Homo sapiens: one gene and its partners. The protein of the gene in region 3 interacts with the protein of the main gene of each other region in a pairwise test. Each region holds a gene or a part of one and is shown on either strand. Other genes may lie near its edges.

Evidence for each region. Proteins that work in one complex are often made in the same cells at the same time.
Region 1: the proteins of BACH2 (region 3) and MAFG interact in binary tests that used the Homo sapiens proteins (3 or more experiments, as listed by UniProt).
Region 2: the proteins of BACH2 (region 3) and AP1M1 interact in binary tests that used the Homo sapiens proteins (3 or more experiments, as listed by UniProt).

Annotation. Positions count from the first base shown.
Region 1 is NC_000017.11:81,917,764-81,924,760, forward strand, and holds the end of MAFG (transcription factor MafG), read right to left. Parts: exon of another isoform or gene 6,005-6,997; intron 5,704-6,004; exon of another isoform or gene 5,590-5,703; intron 5,470-5,589; exon of another isoform or gene 5,452-5,469; 5' UTR 5,423-5,451; coding exon 5,387-5,422; exon of another isoform or gene 5,295-5,386; coding exon 4,842-5,294; 3' UTR 507-4,841; downstream 1-506. Other genes in the region: SIRT7 (NAD-dependent protein deacetylase sirtuin-7), read right to left, coding at 67-204, 276-368. UniProt on the Homo sapiens protein: Since they lack a putative transactivation domain, the small Mafs behave as transcriptional repressors when they dimerize among themselves.
Region 2 is NC_000019.10:16,242,886-16,246,412, reverse strand, and holds the end of AP1M1 (AP-1 complex subunit mu-1), read right to left. Parts: 3' UTR 507-3,527; downstream 1-506. UniProt on the Homo sapiens protein: Subunit of clathrin-associated adaptor protein complex 1 that plays a role in protein sorting in the trans-Golgi network (TGN) and endosomes.
Region 3 is NC_000006.12:90,293,841-90,301,817, forward strand, and holds the start of BACH2 (transcription regulator protein BACH2), read right to left. Parts: upstream 3,004-7,977; 5' UTR 2,640-3,003; intron 1,367-2,639; exon of another isoform or gene 1-1,366. UniProt on the Homo sapiens protein: Transcriptional regulator that acts as a repressor or activator. Binds to Maf recognition elements (MARE). Plays an important role in coordinating transcription activation and repression by MAFK.

The DNA of each region.
Region 1 (6,997 bases), on a different chromosome or scaffold from region 3:
GGGACCGCCCGTCGCCCCAGCTGCTCCCGAAACCGGGGGCGCCCGCGCGCCGCACGCGGAACTCGCCTCCTCCTGCCGCCGCTTCAGGCCCTCGCGCCGCCGGCTCCGGCCCTGCAGCTCCGTTACCAGGTCCGCGCTCTCGGCCAGCAGCCGGCCCTCCTCGGCGCTGCGCTCCGCCGCCGCCTTCCTCAGGATGCGCGACACCTGCGGGCAGGCGGACGGTGAGCGGCGGCGCGGGCCGGGCATGGCCGGGCCGGGGAGCGGCGGCGGCGTACCTGGCGGAGGCGCTCCCTCTGCTGCTCCTCCCGCAACCTCCGGACCCGCTCCGCCGCTTTGCGCTCGGAGCGGCTCAGACCCCCGGCTGCCATCGCTCCCCTGGAGACCTGCTCTTCCGCTTCCGCCTCACACGGCAGGCCGCGCTCAGGGCGCATGCGCAAGATGGGCCCCGCCCCCACCCACCCCTTCCGGCTCCGCCCGCCGCGTCGCCCCAAAGAAGCACCTGCCAGTCTCTTTAAAAGGTTTATTGATCATATACAAAATAAAGAAAACCTTATATATCACAAACATACACTATGTACAGCAATAAATACCCGGGGGGCCAGGCCCAGTGCTGCCCCTCCTGGACAATAATTTAGCAATAAATACTGCGCAGGGCAGGGGTAGGGCACCAAGGCCACTGCCCTGCAAGAGGTCAGGCCCCTGCCCGCCCTACACGAAGTGTGAGCGCTCGGGCCTCACCCCGCATCCAAACCCCAGCCCCTCCTCACTTAGATCTTTAATAACCTCCATCCCACCCCAGCAGATCCCGGGGTCTTCTCCCACACACACAACCTCCCCTGGCTAGACCTAGGCAGGGCAGGCAGGGACTGATCAACTCTGCTTGGACCCACCTCTCAGCGCCAGGAGAGCAACAGGGCTGGACACGCGGGCAGCCCTTGTCCTGTTGCCAGGAGAAGGCTTTCTGTGCCCACTCCCGTTTGGTTAAAGGCTTCAGGGACTAGCAGATTGAGGGGGTGGGAAGAAGGGCAGGGCTGGGACACAAGGTTGCTGGAGGGGCCAAAGCCCAACTGGGGTCACCAAGAACAGGGAGGTCTCACAGTTTATCGGGGACACACTCTAGCTCAGACTCAAGGGACACCCATGGTATCAAAGCTGCTGCTCCAGGGGCAGGGTGGAAATGTGTGGGACTGGCCCAGCAGGTATGGTACACACCCAGGACACAGGCCAGAGGCAGGACAGGCATTAGTCTCTCAGACACGCCCTGCCTCTGTGTGGCACTGATTATGTACTCTACTCTCCCGACCTGCTCCAAGGCCAGACAGCCAACAGGAAGGCAAAAATACACCAAAAAGAATTATTCAGTGGCTTCTGGGGGAAAAATCGTTAATGTGTTGGTTCCTTTCACCAAACCACAGCCTAAAAAAGTAACTCACAAGATCCCAGAGCGGAAACGGTGCAGCAGGCTGCGGCTCCGACTTTCCAGATGTGGATGGGCGCTTTGGCCAAGTGGCCACTCCAGAGGGAGGCAGCAGGGACAACATGGGACCTGACCATCGTCCCAAAGCAGGCTGCAGCCGCTCAGGGCCGTGGGCCGGGCCCTGATCACCAGTCAGAAGTGTACACACATATCTGAAACATGCACCAAGAGCTGAGCCAGCAACACCAGTGCCACCCCGAGCAGCAGCCAGGGGCCTCACTCTCCTGGTGAGAGCTGACCTGTCCCTGCTGGGTATTCCTCTGAAATCTGAGCGTCCATGTTAGGATAAAAGAGGAGTTGGGGCAAAGTTAAGGTGGAAGGGAAGACATATATCATGGTTTACTTGGCGGACAAGTTTGAGAGACCTGGCCTTGGCCAAAGCCCTCGATTCGCTGTGTCAGAAAAACTGAGGTGAGAAGAGACCACCACCCTCTCCACCACCCTCTCAGTAGGAAAGCGGGATCAACAGAGATCAGAAGGACAGCACACTCACACCTGCACATGAACACACCATCTATGTCAGGAAATCCAGGGGAAGGGGAAGAGGGGTGGAGTGGCTCCGCAGGGCTGACCTGACAGGGGACAGGAACACTCCCCTAGACCCAGGGAAGTCGCCCCAAATCCAAAGCTCTTGAAAGGAGGTATGGCCTCGAAACTCCAGAAGCCTCTTCTGCCAACGCACCGAGGACCTGCACCTCCCATTCAGCACGCGTCGACCCTTACACCCTCCTCTTCCACACTCCCTTCGCCTCCAGGTCTGCAGCCTGGCAGAGGTGCTCAAAATGGATGGCCACCCACAGCCAGGACAAAAGTGGGGGCTGCACAAGGACAAGGAGGGCCTGTTTCTCCCCACTCCGAGGCAGATCATGACGTTTTCTTCATGGATACTTATGATATGATTCCAACTAACGCCTGGATTCTACTTAGACAAGATCAGACTGAGGGGAGGGGGATGAAGTCACTAAATGACAAGAGTCAACAGCCAATATTTCCATTTTCAGGCTGACGCAGGTAGACACAGGACTTGTCTCTGAACACCTCGAGCAAAGAAAAGCTCATTAACATGACAAGTGTTGATGGTGCCTCCCTGTTCCCATCCTGTGGGCACACCAGGCCAAACTATTGGATAAAAATCCCACCATCCATAGGGTTAAGCCCTGTTGGGCCACAGTTTTTCATCTTACCCACATCTGTGTGCTTTACAGAAGTCTGGGCCCCACAGAAAAGAAACCAGCAACCCGGTGAAAGGCCAGGGCTCACATGGCCAGACACAGGGCTGTAGCCTCTTGGAGGTGGGTAGGGGCACCCCCTCCCCATCATATGCCTACAAGGAGCCTCCTGAGCCCAGCCAGGAAGGGCAGCAGCCTCTGGCGAGGAACTGAGAGCAGGAGGCAGGCTGCGCCCCCACAGGGAGGCACCTCCAGCAGAAGCCAAGCAGCTGATCCCTGGAAGACACAGATCCCAAAGGGAGGCAGAAGGCAGGCCCGAAGCCAAGAGCTGCCAGCGTGGACCAGCGGAGAAGAGGGACAAGACCCGGCCCTGGAGACTGTAGCCCTTGTCTGCACTGGTGGAGACCCCCAAGGCTCTCAGAGTGAGGCAGGGACAAGGAAGAAAGGGCGGTGCCCGGTGGGCCCCCACCCACTCTGCCTGGAAGCACCACCCGCAGCATGGAAACACCTCAGGGATCAAGCGGGCGGCGAGACCTGCAGCCCACGGCGCGGGCAGCCTATAGGAACAAAGCTGAGGCCAGAGGAAGACGGCCAGGGAACGCTTGGCCATAGCCCTGTGGCCACCCACAGTGACTCCCTCATCCCTGTAATGCCACCACCCAAGGCCAGAGGTGGTGGGTGTGGAAGCAGCGTGGGGCGCCCCAAGGGACCCCAGTTTCACCTACCCCGCCACTAGATCAGCCCAAGCCCTAGACACAGATGTAGCCAAGGCTCAGTGGAGGGGGGCATGACAGAACCCCATGTCTCACCTCCTACGGACCAGGAGCTGGTGGTGGGCACAGATTCCTTGAGCTCTGACGCAGCAGGCGCCACTTGGCACCCCAGCCCAGGTCCAGCAAGCCAGCAGAAGCAAAAGCACAACTAAACCCAAAAAACGAACACGGGAAAACAGACACAAGAAGTGACACCCACAGGTCAAAGGTCACCAGAAGCACCAGCACTTTACCGCTGCACAAAACCTCACCAGGCACGGACGACACCACGGCACCGGCAAGAGACGGAAGCAGGAAGGGCAGAGGAGTAAGTCACTTTCGGTACAATTGCAAAAGATATCAAAGAGGACGGCCTTCTGGTCGGCTCACGGCTTGGCTTTTTTTTTTTTGTCTTTTTTTTAAACTAAGTTTTATAAATAATGTCTGATAACTCTGTGTATATAAAAACTAAACTCCAACAGCCACAAAGAGGTGTCCGTAAGTTTACAAGAAAGGGATTTTTTTTCTTTTTTTTTCTTTTTTTTTTAACTAGCAAAGTTTCTATTATACTTTCTTCCCTTTTCCATTCATATGGTCAAATGGTCTTCTTGCTTGTTTTTTTTCTAAAAGACAGTTTTATAAATACTCTGCAGCTCTTTTTTCTTTAACTTTTAAACATATAATTAATTTAATAACTTTGTAAAAGGAACTTCTCTCTTTTAAATAAAGGGCTATATAACCACACAAATAGGTCATGTAAACAGTGACACGGGACCCATCGCAGGGCACACTGGACCCACCCTCACGTTAAGCGCACAACCAGAGATTTGGTCTTGTTCAGTGCAACGGGTCAGGCCTGAGTGCACAGCCCCTGGGCCCAGCTGCACGCCCCCAGCACCACTGCGCCCAGGCTGGTGGTCCACCCATCAGGGCCTTCAAGCCCGCCCTACTCTCAGAGCAGAGCCCATCTCTTCATGCTGGGCTAAGCTGAGCTGCTCCCCTGGGGCTAAAGAGAGTGAATCCTTCCCAGCCCGCGAGCCTGTGGCCACTCGGGAGTGGAGGGAACACTGGGACCCTCACTGCTCGGGGACACGCGAGGCCCAGCGTGCCTGCTCCTTCTCTCTCCCGCAACTCTCTCTAGTCCGTTCCCACAGCACCAACTCTGGACTCCAAGCCTGCATGGCCCTGGTACAAAAGGGGTTGGGGCGACCCCACGTCACCGCCGAACTGACCAATCCCAACATACAAAACACACGACGACAATGACGAGATCAAAGGGGCTCAGCCCGGCGCCCCTGGGGTACAGGTTGTGCTTTGCAGGGAAGAGAGAAGGGTGGGGAAGAGAGGGAGGAAAGAGAAGAGAAGGAAACAGAGGGACAGGGCAGCCAAATTCGCCATGTGCCTAGTGGCCCCGCAAAGACCCGCCTGGGCAGACGCGCGTCCCTACGATCGGGCATCCGTCTTGGACTTTACTATTGTGATGACGCTGGTGGCGGCCACCTTGCCTGGGACGAGGGGCCCCAGGCCGGCGGCAAGGGGGCCCCGGGCTGGCGCCACGGGGCTGCGGGCCACCGTCCGGGCGAAGGTCTGCAGCGCCTCGTACTTGGAGCGCAGCGCGTCGAGCTCCAGCTTCATGCTGGCGTTCTCTGAGGCCAGCTTCTCCACCTCCTGCTGCAGCTCCGCCTTCTGCTTCTCCAGCTCCTCCTTCTGCGTCACCCGCTTCACGCGGCAGCTGGCAGCGTAGCCGCGGTTCTTGAGCGTGCGCCGGCGCTGCTTCAGCTGGACGATCTCCTCCTTGGACAGGCCCCGCAGGTGCTGGTTCAGCTCCCGCACCGACATGGTCACCAGCTCCTCATCCGTCAGGCTGGTGCCATTCTCACCCGGCTCCCGCTTCACCTGGGGCACAGTGCAGGTGGTCACAGGCCAAGCGGGCACGCCCACTGTGCCCCCCGACCCCAGCCCACAGGCTCCTGTCCCTGCCCACTCACCTTCAAGGCCTTGTTTCCTTTATTGGGGGTCGTCATAACCCGGGGGCACAGCGAGCAGGCGCTCTCTGCAAGACACGGAGCAGGTCAGTACCCTGGAGACCACCCTCGCCGCACCCCCCCCCCCCCGCCCCCGGCCCAGTTCACAAGAGCCCTTGCCGCACAGCCCGCCCCAGCCTGCTGTCCAGGTGCCCAGCCCCCAATACCTGATAGGAGGCAGCCCTTGGCCTCTCCCAGGCTGGGCTGAGCTGCTTCCTGTCCACCCTGCCCCTAGAGAACCAGGTGGGAGGTCAGGAAGGTCTGACGGGAGAAGGGGAACTGAAGGCTGTTAGGAAGGCAGGCGCAAGACAAGGGGCAGGGGAGAGATTAGAAGGAATAAGACGCGGGAGAGGCAGGCCTAGAAGGAAGCCGGGAGCTTTAAAAATAACCCCGGCACTGCCCAGAGCGCGGCTGTTCCTGGCGAGTCACGCTGACTCAGCACATTGCCTCTGCCTCCCCGCCGCGCCCGCACTCCCTGGCCCGCCAGCCAACAGCGCCCCACGAGAGCCGCAGCCCCCAGCCTGGCCAATAGCAGGTGAGGGCCAGCCAGTGACCCTGTGTGTGCATCTTCCAGGGTCCTACCTTCTACAGCCACCTCCCCTGAGCCGGCCTCGGACAAAGCCCCCTGCTCCCTGGGTGCACAGGGGCCCCACGGGGGACCTGGCCAGAGAGGAGGCTACAGGGAACCCCGAGTCTCCCAGCCTCCTAACTTTGAAAAGCTGGGGGTGGGCCGTCCATCTAGCTCTGGTCTGTTGGCAGGACTGACCAGGGAGTTCCCCCACCTTCCAGGTGGCAGGCCATCAGCTGGGAGGAGCCTGGCCCGAGGCCCCTCTAGACCTCCCAGTCGGCCTCCTCCACTGATGGAGTAACCATCCTGTGGCTTTGGGTTGCAGGAAGCAGCCCCTGCCCCACCCCATCCAGGGTATTTCACAAGGGCTCCCACAGTGAGCCACCCCGGGCCTGCCCAACGTGAAGGCTGGCGGAGTCAGCCCCTCCGAGCTGCAGCCTGCTCTCTGGTCCCTGCCCCGGGTGAGTGCCCACAGGGCCAGGGAGCAAAAACAAAAGTGCTGGGGTGGCCGGACTTAACAACCAACTCTTCCCCACTCGGGGTCCCTCCAGCACTCTGCTCTCACTTTCTTGCTAAGGATGTTTCTGGGATTCCCAGCTCAGCCCAGCTCCCACCAGACCCTTGGGCATGGACCCCCGCCTCATGCTCCATCCCCCACTTTCCAGGTTTGATGCAGACAGATGGGAGACTCCTCCAGAGGAGCTAGGATCACTTCAGGAAATTATGGGCTGGGGGGCTTCTTACTCTCATCAGGGGAGCTGAAGTGTGGCCAGGCGGATGCACACATCCTCACCAGGCTCAAGACTCCACCTCACCCAGCCTGGGACCAGGAGGTGAGGCTGCAAGCACAGAGCAGGGAGGGGAGGCCAGAGACCCCTCCCCACAGCCAAGCCAGCTCAGAGGCAAGGTCCCGAGGCTCCAGCCACTGGATTCTTCCAGATAAAGGATGGGGAAGACCTGAGCTGGAGGTCAGAAGGCCCACAGGAGCCCTTTCCTACACGTCCGGC
Region 2 (3,527 bases), on a different chromosome or scaffold from region 3:
TGTTGATTTTCTTTATTGAGTGTTTCTTTTCCATTTTCTTTGTATCTACTCCCTATTATTTCCTTCTTTCTGTGCTCTTACATTTATTTTGTTGTTCTTTTTCTAACTTCTTGAGATGGAGGCTTAGATCATTATTTTAGCCTTTATATATGTATATATGTGTACACATTTAATATCTACTCATATATATTTCTTTCTTTTTGAGATGGAGTTTTGCTCTTGTTGCCCAGGCTAGAGTGAAATGGTGAGATCTTGGTTCACTGAAACCTCCGCCTCCCAGGTTCGAGTGATTCTCCTGCCTCAGCCTCCCGAGTAGCTGGGATTACAGGCACATGCCGCTGTGCCCGGCTAATTTTTGTATTTTTAGTAGAGATGGGGTTTCACGATGCTGACTTCAGGTGATCCACCTGGGCTGGCCTCCCAAAGCGCTGGGATTACAGGCTTGAGCCACCTCGCCCAGCCTAGAATTGTAACTCTCAAACATTCAAAGGAAAACAATGACTTTATTTTTATTTTTTAAATTATTTATTTATTTTAGCCCCCTGCCTTTTTAAATATAAGCTCTCATCATTCAAGCAATGACTTTTTTTAAAAGCCACAAACAATCTGTAATAAATCCAGAGAGGACATAAAAGAGAACATAGAAAGGACAAAAATAGAAAACAAAGTAAGACGGTAGATTTAAATTTATACTTAAATGTAATATCAGTTATTACATTAAATGTAAAGGGACTTAATGCTCCAGCTAAAAGTCATTTTGTCAAACTGAATTTTAAAAATTCCAACTCTACGCTATTTTCCCCCCCAAATGCTGTCACACTCCTAGGAACAGAGAGGTCATTCTGGGTGGAATTCTGGTCTCCCCGCACTTTGGGAGGCCGAGGCAGGTGGATCACTTGAGGCCAGGAGTTCTAGACCAGCTTGGCCAATATGGTGAAACCACAACTCTATAAAATTACATAAATTAGCTGGGTGTGGTGGCGTGCACCTGTAATCCTGGCTACTCAGGAGGCTGAGGCAGGAGAATTGCTTGAACCCAGGAGGTGGAGGTTGCAGTGAGCTGAGATCACGCCACTGCACTCCAGCCTGGGCGACAGAGTGAGACTCTGTCTCAAAAAAACAAAACAAAGAAGAAAAGCAAAGTTACAGTGCTAAAATAATAAAAATGTTTTAGCTCCCTTAGATAGTAAAATGCATACTTATCAAAATGCAGATTTGGCTGGGCGCAGTGGCTCATGCCTGTAATCCCAGCACTTTGGGAGGCCGAGGCGGGCGGATCACCTGAGGTCGGGAGTTTGAGACCAGCCTGACCAACATGGAGAAACCCCGCCTCTACCAAAAATACAAAGTTAGGCAGGCCTGGTGGCGCATCGTGTAATCCCAGCTACTCAGGAGGCTGAGGCAGGAGAATAGCTTGAACCCGGGATGCAGAGGTTGCAGTGAGCAAAGACCGCGCCATTGCACTCCAGCCTGGGCAACAAGAGCGAAACTCCGTCTCAACAACAACAACAACAACAACAACAACAACAAACAACAAATTTTATCCATGTTATTTATTTATTTATTTATTTATTTTGAGACGGAGTCTCGCTCTGTCGCCCAGGCCGGACTGCGGACTGCAGTGGCGCAATCTCGGCTCACTGCAAGCTCCGCTTCCCGGGTTCACGCCATTCTCCTGCCTCAGCCTCCGGAGTAGCTGGGACTACAGGCGCCCGCCACCGCGCCCGGCTAATTTTTTGTATTTTTAGTAGAGACGGGGTTTCACCGTGTTAGCCAGGATGGTCTCGATCTCCTGACCTCGTGATCCGCCCGCCTCGGCCTCCCAAAGTGTATCCATGTTATTTATTCTCCTCCCAGACAGTCATTAACTTGGAACATTTTAACTCAGTTTACTCCCTGCAGACTTTTTTTCCTGTTGTATAATTCTATCACTTAAAAAAACTCCAGAAACTGTTTATGCAATCTTTGTCTAGATTTTCTCATGTATTTTCTACTTCTTTGCTTTTATTTCTTCTTGCATCATGCCCTTCCGTCTGAGATCACTTTCCTTGTGCCTGATGTGAGTACACTGTTTACAATTTTCTTTAGTGTTAGCCTGCTGCTGGCAAACTCTTTCGTTATTTGTCTGCAAAATGTTTTTACTGTAACCTCATTCTTGAAATACTTTTGCTGGGTCTCTGATTTGGGTTAGTGGTTTTCTTTTAGCATGTTGAAAATGTCACCCAACTGTTTTCTGGGTTCCTTTGAAAAGCCAGCTGTCTGTCTGTCTGGTTGTCATGTCTGAAGGTGATGTGTCTTTACCTCTGGCTGCTTTAAGTATCTTTTGCCTTTTTCCCCTTTGTGAATGTTTTTGCTGAAGTGTAACATATACACAAAAGAGTGTGCAAATCATCAATGCTTGATGGATTCTCGAGAGCACACCCATGTCACCTGCATCCAGATTGAAAAATATTCTCTAATTATTTATTTGGAGACAGACTCTCGTTTCGTTGCCCAGGCTGGAGTGCAGTGGCACAATCTCAGCTCACTGCAACCTCTGCCTCCAGGGTTCAAGCCATTCTTGGGCCTCAGCCTCCTGAGTAGCTGGGATTTACAGGCGTGTGCCACTACACCTGGTTAATTTTTGTATTTTTAGTAGAGATGGATTTTCGCCATGTTGGCCAGGCTGGTCTCGAACTCCTGAGCTCAAGTGATTCACCTGCTTCAGCCTCCTAAAGTGCTGGGATTATAGACATGAGCCACTGCACCTGGCCATTCTCTAATATTTTCTAACTTCCATTATATTTTCTTCTTTGACACATGGTGATTGAAAAATGTGCTTTAAAATCTCTCATATTGGCTGGGCATGGTGACTCACACCTGTAATTCCAGCACTGTGGAGGCTGAGGCAGGTGGATCACTTGAGCCCAAGTGCAAGACCAGCCTGGGCAACATGGCAAAACTCCATCTCTACTAAAAATACAAAAAAAAAAAAAAAATAGCTGAGCTTGGTGGTGCTCACCTGTAATCCCAGCTACTTGTGAGACTGAGATGGGAGGACTATTTCAGCCTAGGAGGCCAAGGTTGCAGTGAGCTGACATCGTGCCACTGACTGCACTCCAGCCTGGGCAACAGAGACCCTTTCTCAAAACAAAAACAAAAACAAAAACAAAAACAAAAACAAAAAAAACCTCTCATATTTGGAAATATTTTAAAGTAATTTATTTCTTGTTGAATTCTAACTAATTTCTCTTGAAAATTCCTCAGAGAGTGGGAACTCTAATAATAATTCTTGGAGTTGTGTGGAAACTTCTCGGGGATCTAATACATTTTTTCTTTTGCTTTCTTGCTTTAAAGTCTATTCTGGCCGTGTGTGGTGGCTCACACCTGCCACTAGCACTTTGGGAGGCCAGTGGGGGTGGATCACCTGAGGTCAGGGTTCAAGACCAGCCTGGCCAACATGGCAAAACCCTGTCTCTACTAAAAATAAAAAAAATACAAAAATAAAAAAATTTAGCCAAGCATGGTGGTGCATGCCTGTAATCCCA
Region 3 (7,977 bases):
TCATCCAGGGATTTCAAGGCAGTTTGCAAATAATTAAGCCCCTTACACAGCAGCCAGAGGTGAGCTACTGGAAAAGAATTGCCTGAAGATACTAAGTCAAAGGGCATAATTCAATAGGAAAATAATAAATGGCTTTCTCCCAGGCACTGGTAATACAGAAAGTGAATCCTGATCCCCTCCCTCTCTTTCACCTCACCCCTTCTTCTTCATAGCAGATCCTGACATGCAACATACAAAGAACCAAAAAAGTAACTAACAGGAGTGTTCACAATTTAGCTATGAGTTCAGACACACACTTAACTGAGAAGTGTGTGTCTCCATGTAATCCTGGCAAACACACTACCAACTGACATTTCAGTCCACCTGCAGAATAGACAGACAGCAGAAGAATTTACTCAACACATTCATGATTACCAAATGGCAAACCTGAAGCCTCCTGCAATGCAAAACGAAAATACGGCTCTGCACCAATAAAGTTATGTTCTAACAAAAATACTTTATTCCATGGTTGTGTGTTCCATTTCTGGGACTTCGCTCTATTTCAATGATATTCAGGTTTCGAGAGTAAAAAAAACGTTGGAAATGGGCAATCAATAAATTTCTTTCAAAAACCAGAATACTAGAAGGGAAAACATTTCAGCCACTCAAAGTTTTGTGGTGAAATTATAAACTCCAGAAAAACTGAATTTATAATGGAAATGCTGACAGACCTTTCAGTGGAGCAGTTTGAACGCAACACTGTAATTTGGCAATCTCTCTTACAGACTAAAGACTAATTCTAACAAGATGTCATTTTGACTCACGTTTATTATTACCTGCAAGAATGAAAAACGCCGTTTACTCGGGAGGTGCCCGAGAACCAGGGTGGGGCGATCTCACATTTTAAGCAAGACGCCCGCTGCCTTACCAAAATAGCCCTCTCCGCCAAAGGAGGGGCAGCCTTTCACGCTCAGCTTCTTTCATGTCAGCCCGAGCCTTTGCAGCAAGACGTGCCTTTCCTACATGTTACATTTTAATGATCTGAGAAAACCGTTATCAGCGTTAACATCTCTAATTTTACTCTAAACAGACAAAAGCAAAATATCTCATTAGGCATCATCTCCGCCAAGGTTCCCACTAGGCAGGAAAGGATTTTTATCTAAAGTAATTACCCTTTTTAGTTAAATACACTCAACAGATGAAATTTACAGAGAGTGAGAGACTGCAGCACTAGACAGCGAAGGTGAAAACCAGGAACGCCGCGTCTCGCCGCCCGCGGGCCCGCCGGGAGACTGCGGGTCCGTCTCGCGGGTGGGGCGCCCCGGTCCCTCTCGTTTCCTGGAGGCCACAGGTCACGGCGACGGCGGTGACCGGGAGAGCAGGCTGCGAGGCGCGCCTCATCGGGCCACAGACAAACCACCCCGGCAGCGGCCGCGCCGGAACTTCCCTCAAGTTACCAAACTCGCCTACGCGCGGGAGAGTGCTGGGGATGCCCCATGCGCCCGCGACCCCAGAAGCCAGGAGTGTGCCACCCCTTCACACACTCACTCCCGGCCCTGCACGCTTCCCCTCACGGTCCGAGTTCCTGCAAATGCTTGGCCAGACCGAGGTCGCCGAGATGCTCGCTCCAGTCTCTCCCCTCGTGGGCACCTAGGGTAGCCCGTGAGCGCCGCCCGCCGCCGTCTCCAGCGGCGCCGGGCTCCCGAACACCCGCCGGGTGAGCGAAGCACAGCGGGGCCACGGAGCGCCTCGACGCGGGGACGGGGAGGGCAGTGTCCCCTTCATAAACCAGTCTCCTGGGTGAAGCTTCTGGGGCTTGGAGACTGGAGTGTAGGGTGTGTGTGTGTGTGTGTGTGTGTGTGTGTTGCACCTTGACTTCATGGAGGATCTGTGGGAGAGGAGGTGCAAGGTTTCCCTCTCAGAAGCCTGGCGCCCTTAGGTCTTAGCTACGCGGGACGCTTTCCGACAACCCGATCTTTCGCTAGGAGAGATTCGATCCAGGTCTGCGCCGCGAGGCCCCCAGCTCGCCTCTTCCTGCGACCCTAAACTTGGGCTTTGATTCCCCGCCGGTCGCGGTGGTCCGGGCCACCCGGCGGCGGCTGACAGCTGAGCGCAAAGGCGCCGCGGCCAAGGTCCTCGCGGAGCAGCCCGGGATGCGCACGCCGAGGGTTAAGGAGGAGGCCGCCCGGCCTGGAGCTGGGATCGCAGGCTGGGGGCCGGGACACCCGGGCCTCGCCGGGCCGGGGGCAGGGCCGCGGGTCTGACAGCTGCTGCGGCTCGCGCGGACGCGCGCCTCCTGCAGCCCGCCCTCCCCATGCCTGACTTATTACTCTCTGCTCCTCCTCCCTCTGCTGTTCCAAAACACCCTTCGACGCCAGCAAAATACAATGCGCCTCGGCCGCCGTAAACAGCCGGGAGGGAGAGCACACATTCGGCGCGGCGCGGCCGCCGGCTCGGCTCCCACCCCCTTCCCGTTCCTAGAAAATGCCATAAAAGCGGGCAGGGCGCGGGGAGGGCGGCTGCGCGCCCGGCGGCCGGGGCTCCCTTCCCGCGCCGTTTCCCCACGCCTCCCCGCCCGCCCCGCGCGCCCGCTCCCCCCGCAAACTTGCCCCGCCACCCCGCCCAGCGGCGGGGCCCGGGGCCCGGGGCCCGGGACTCACCTCGCCGGAGAACTTTGCGTCCTTTTCCGCCTCCTCTTCCCCGCGTCTTCCCGGCTCGCAGCCCCCTCCCGGCAGCCGGCGAGGTGGGCAGTTCGTGGGTCACCGAAAGCTCGCGGAGGGGACGCGCATCACATGGCAGCTCGTTCCCAGCCCCCCGAGTGCGCCGGGAAGGGGGAGGGGAAGGGGCGAGGGGAGGCCGGGGGGAAAGCGAGAGCGGGGCGGCGGCGGGAGTGGGCAGGCGGGGTGGCGAGGGCGGCGGCCGCTCACGTTAGCGCTGTGCGACCGCAGCCCGGGCGTGCACGGCCGCTGCTGCCGCTGCTGCTGCTGCTGCTGCTGCTGAGGCGGCGGCGGCTCGGCGCTGTTTGCTCCGCGCCGCGCGGCTTGCGCTCTCCCCGGAACGCCCACACTCTCAATCGCTACATTGTTGACATTCGGCGCTGACGTCACCCGCTCCCCATTCACAATAACTTTACGGGAGCCGGGCAGCGCACCTCCCCGGCCGCTGGGGCGCGGTACGCCCGGCGACTAGCGTAAGCCGCTCCGCGAATGGCGCTCCGGGGGCTGGGGCGGGGGGCGGGGGACGGGGGCGGGCGCGCGCGCTCCGCTGGCTCGCGGGAGGGGGCGCGCCTCATGCCGCCGCAGCAGCAGATCTCCCCGCTTTGTGCGGCCGCGCGGCCCGGAGAGCCCCCTCCTCCCGGCCCGGCTGACCGCCCCGCTCGGCCTGGCCTTCCCGGCCACGAAAGACGAGGGTTGGGGGCATAGCAGGGTGAGAGTAGTGGTGAGGGCTGGTGTGGCACGTGGGGAGGGGGCCAGAGCCCTAGGTGCTGCACCTGGGGAAGGAGAGCAGACGTCGGGACCGGGGATCCCAGGGTTAGCTAGCGTTTTCCCGGAAGGGCAAGAAAAGATGCTCCACTGGCCCCCACAAAGCTGACCGGACTCCCTTTTGGGTGGGGACCGGGCGAGTAAAAGCAGCCTTTTGAATGTTGACTTCTCAATCCTTTTCAGGAGGCCCTCCGCCTGCCCTACTGAGCGAACCTTTAAGCCCCCAAGCCAGTGTTTTTGGAAAGAGAGTGGTCAATTTCAGGAGGACATTAAAAGCCAACCTCCCGGGCTTCAGCCCCAGCTCCTACTGCCTTCCAGCCACTCTCCCCTGCCTTTCCTTTCTGCGGCTCTTAGGATGTTGTTGCTGCCCTTAAAGGCCGTCGTGTGAGTGCCCTGTCAGAAGAAAGCTTGGTGGTGGTTAGGATTTTACAGAAGGTAATTAGGATTTAGGCTGAATGTACATTTGCAATAAAATAAGGTTGTGTTAGTGTTGTGCTGGTGCCTGCAACTTTACCTCTTGCCAAGGCCAGAAAATTCTGCCACGTTTCCCTAAACACCTATAACTTGGCCCTCTTGTGTACAGGCAGTATTCCATATTATTACACGTGGTGCTGATTTTTAATGAATATTATAAAAGTTTGGCTCGCTCTACTGAGAGAAGGATCATAAATCCCCCCTGTAAAACGGGCACTGGCGTATGCTGAGGAAGCAGTGAAGCGTCCTGGGAGTCTTGTGATATCATCTAAAGTGTTGCTCTGAACTACCTTCATTTGAGGGCAGAGTTTTGAAAGGCCCCATTTGGAATGTCTGTGTGGAAAGCTAAGTGATGGCTGAAAGCAAGCTGAAGGTGCTGAGCTAATTTTTCTAACAGCACTGCAGAGTCCCTGCGTGGAGGTCTGGCACGGGACTGTGAGATTTTCTCTGCTAACCGACCCGGCCTTCAGATAAGGAAAAGTCCTAGAGCTAGGAGTAGCCCTCAGTCTCCTGACCTCTGGTCTGGTGCCCCCTAGGACAAAACACCCTGCTTCTGAGGTCCCTGCCTGACCCCTGGCAAGGACAGAGTACTAATTCCTGGTCTGCCCTGGCCAGGCCGTTTCTTATAGTTTTATGGATGGTTCTGTTTCTCATTCCTCATTCTTGTAAGTATGTGTTTGTGAGATAACTTTACGCATTTTAGTAGCAGCAATAAATGTTTTTCTCACAACAAGGGATGCTTGAGAGCATCCGTATGAGAGTGGTGTAGATTCATTTATTTTCAAGCAAGCGGTGGCTGCCCAGCTGTGAGTGGAGTTGGGCACATCAGCGTAGGGGTGGTTGAGGAGGGAAATGAGGCTGCCAGCTGATCTCCCACCTCCATTCTGGATTCTACAAGCTGATCTTGTCAGATGGATACAACAAAGGCTAACAGGTCATTTCAGTTAGTCTGCTTGCCCAAAGACTCAGACTGGAGCTTTTTCACTTTGAGATTTTCAAGCATGAGGTGGGACATTAAATAGAGATGAAAAAACCTAAAACACCTGTGATAGGTTGCATCATCCAGTCATTCAAGGAGGCTGAATTAGGAGTAGTTAGCCTCTCAGGTTACATCCAGCTCTGCAATCATGCACCTCTGGCTGTAAGACGAAATCTTTGCTTTGGATAAGCTTTGAAGTCTGGTAGTGAGTTCATTTTTCTACTTTATTTTCGGTAGTTAGAAGTGGGTTATTTGAATTCAAGCCGAAAAATACATTCAGAATTATGTGAAATTAAAATGGTAAGTCAAGTACTAGACACTCATTTAACAGTACTGCTGCAGAGGTTGGGCTGTGGACAGCCTTAGCACCTCCATCATGAGTTTGCATGGCCACTCCTGGGCTTGTGCTGCTCTGGCAATTTAGGCGTTTATGATGTGAAACAGATCCAGGTCCTTCCCTCTGTATAATCATGGCAGTAAGTTGAGTGGAGGTCAATTTATTTCTCATGCCTGGAGCATTCAACCTTTCCTGATATACATTTTTTTCCTACATAATTACACATGTGTGTTGATCCAGAGCATGGGCTTTGTCTGTGATTCATTTCTAAGCATGATATTTCCAGGGACAATAAATCTGTATCATGGCATTGAAACAAATAAACTTTATTTCTATAATAGAAATCTTCTTGATTGTAGAAAATAAAACAGGAAAAATTAAAATATACAGGAAACAGATGAGGAAAGGAAGACGGACTAAAGACATGGGCAGTTCTTGAGCCTTTGATTTTCTTGCTCTCCAGCACCCTGTACAGGATTTGATGATGTTGAGAAAATATTGTATTTTTTCTTAGGCAGAACAGTAGACAGAATTTCAAATGTGGTACCTTGAATAAGGCATGGCAGGGCAAATTTAACATCCAATGAAATCTGACAAAAGTGAATGGAGTGGGATGCTGTAGGGGTTTCTGCAGACAAGGAACATGTCCTGGCCTCAACTCCTAAAGGATCACTCTGCTGGGTCACGGGAAGTACAGGAATGGAAGCAGAGAGACCAAGTAGGAGGCTATTGAGATAAGTCATTAGAGAGGTGATGGTGATTTAAACTATTAATAGAATGCTAGAATGACAGCCATAAATGGAATCCAGATATATTTTCAGCATAAACCGGACAAGATTTGTTGATGATTCCATTGTAGGATATGAGAGAAGAGTCAAAGGAAATTCTGAATTTTGGACTGAACAGCTTATTAATGGAGAGTTCATTTATCCAGGCGGAGCAGGTATGGGGGAAATGCTGAAACATTTGGTTTTGGATATAGTACATTTCAGATGTCTATCAGACATCTAAGTGGAAAAGGTGAGCAGGTAATCAGACATGGGAATCTAGAATTTAGGGGAGAAGTCCAGACTAGAGATAGAAATCTGTGTGTCATCAACACAGCAACTGGAAACATGGGTGGAGAAGAGGAGCAAAGAGAAGAAGTCTAAGGTTTAAGACCTGGGGCACTCCGACATTTAGAGGTCAGCAAGATGAAGAAAAAAAGATCCCCACAAGGAAGCTGAGAAGCTTCCTTGAGAGAGAAAGGGGCCAGTTCATCCCAACCAACAGAAGGAAGGGCAGCACAGGTGGGGAAGTGCAGGGAGGCTGGAATATCATGGTAGGAAGTATGGGAAGCCGTTGTCTGAGGAATTCTGTTTTCTTAGTGGAGTAAGAAGATAGACCGTTCACTGATAGTGGAGGAGGGAAGGATAGATTTAGGGGATAGAGAAAAGATGTGAACCAGTGCCAGGGATGTGGCAGAATTGCTGGACGGCACAGAGGACCTTGGGGGCCCACTCCTGGGGGCTTTCTGGACACACCACTGCCAAGAAGAGATTTCTCATTGTACAAAATCTCACACAAGTTTTGAAAAATGATCAGGGCAATCCAAACCAGAAAAGCAAAAATTTTGCTTCTAGCTATTGTTAAATTTGGCTGGCAGCCTTTTTCCTTCAAACTGTATATCTCTTATCTGTCCCATCTTCATCTCCTCAAAGATTGCCTCAGTTCCTAAGAAGGACTTTGGAAATAGTCCCTAAAAGAAAGTGATGTTCTTATATTACTATCTATAGTGATCTTCTTCTATAGTAAAGAATTGATGCCACTATTATCTAAAAGCTTATATGAAATAAACTAGTAAAATATGGTATATGAAATAAACTAATTTTTCAACATACACTACTGAGCATCTGTTACATGTTGAGGTGAAAAATTAAGAAACATTGGACTGTATCCTTAAGGAACTTAAATCTACATAAGGAGTCAAAACTAATATACATGAAACAATTGAAAAATGTAATTTTGTATTTGATTTTATTACTTTTATATATTAATATTTAAAATTATATAGAAATTGTATGTGTTATAATTTATACTAATGAAAAAATTAAGAATGTACAGATCTTTTTTGTATGATAGCAAAAAGAAAATGGAAAAATCCAAATGCCTTACAGGAAATGATTGGCTAAATAAATGGTGGTTCATATATAAAATATGAATATCATGGATCCATCAAAAATAATATTGGTGGCTGGGCACGGTGGCTCATGCCTATAATCCCAGCACTTTGAGAGGCTGAAGCAGGCAAATTTCTTGAGCTCAGGAGTTTGAGACCAGCCTGGACAACATAGTGAAACCCCATCTCTACCAAAAATAATAATAATAATGAAAAAAATTAGTGATGAAAATTTATGTATATTGATATATTAATATTTTGTTAGTATAGTTTAACAATAATTTGTATAACTATTTACAATAGGATCCTATTTGTGAAAAAAAATTGCCAGTGCATGCATAGGAAAAATCTGGAAGGCTATATGCACAGTGTTCAAGTGGTTCTCTTGAAATAAAGAGCCTATAAGTGGTTTTACTTTTGCTTTTTAAAAAAATTTTCTGTAATATAAATATATTACTTCTGTAATAAAGGTAGCCAATAAATGTTGTAAAATTCAAAATATGCATAATTAAATTCTAACAAGAACTTAAGTATTGTAGATGTTAAGAGGAAAAACAAATTATGAAGG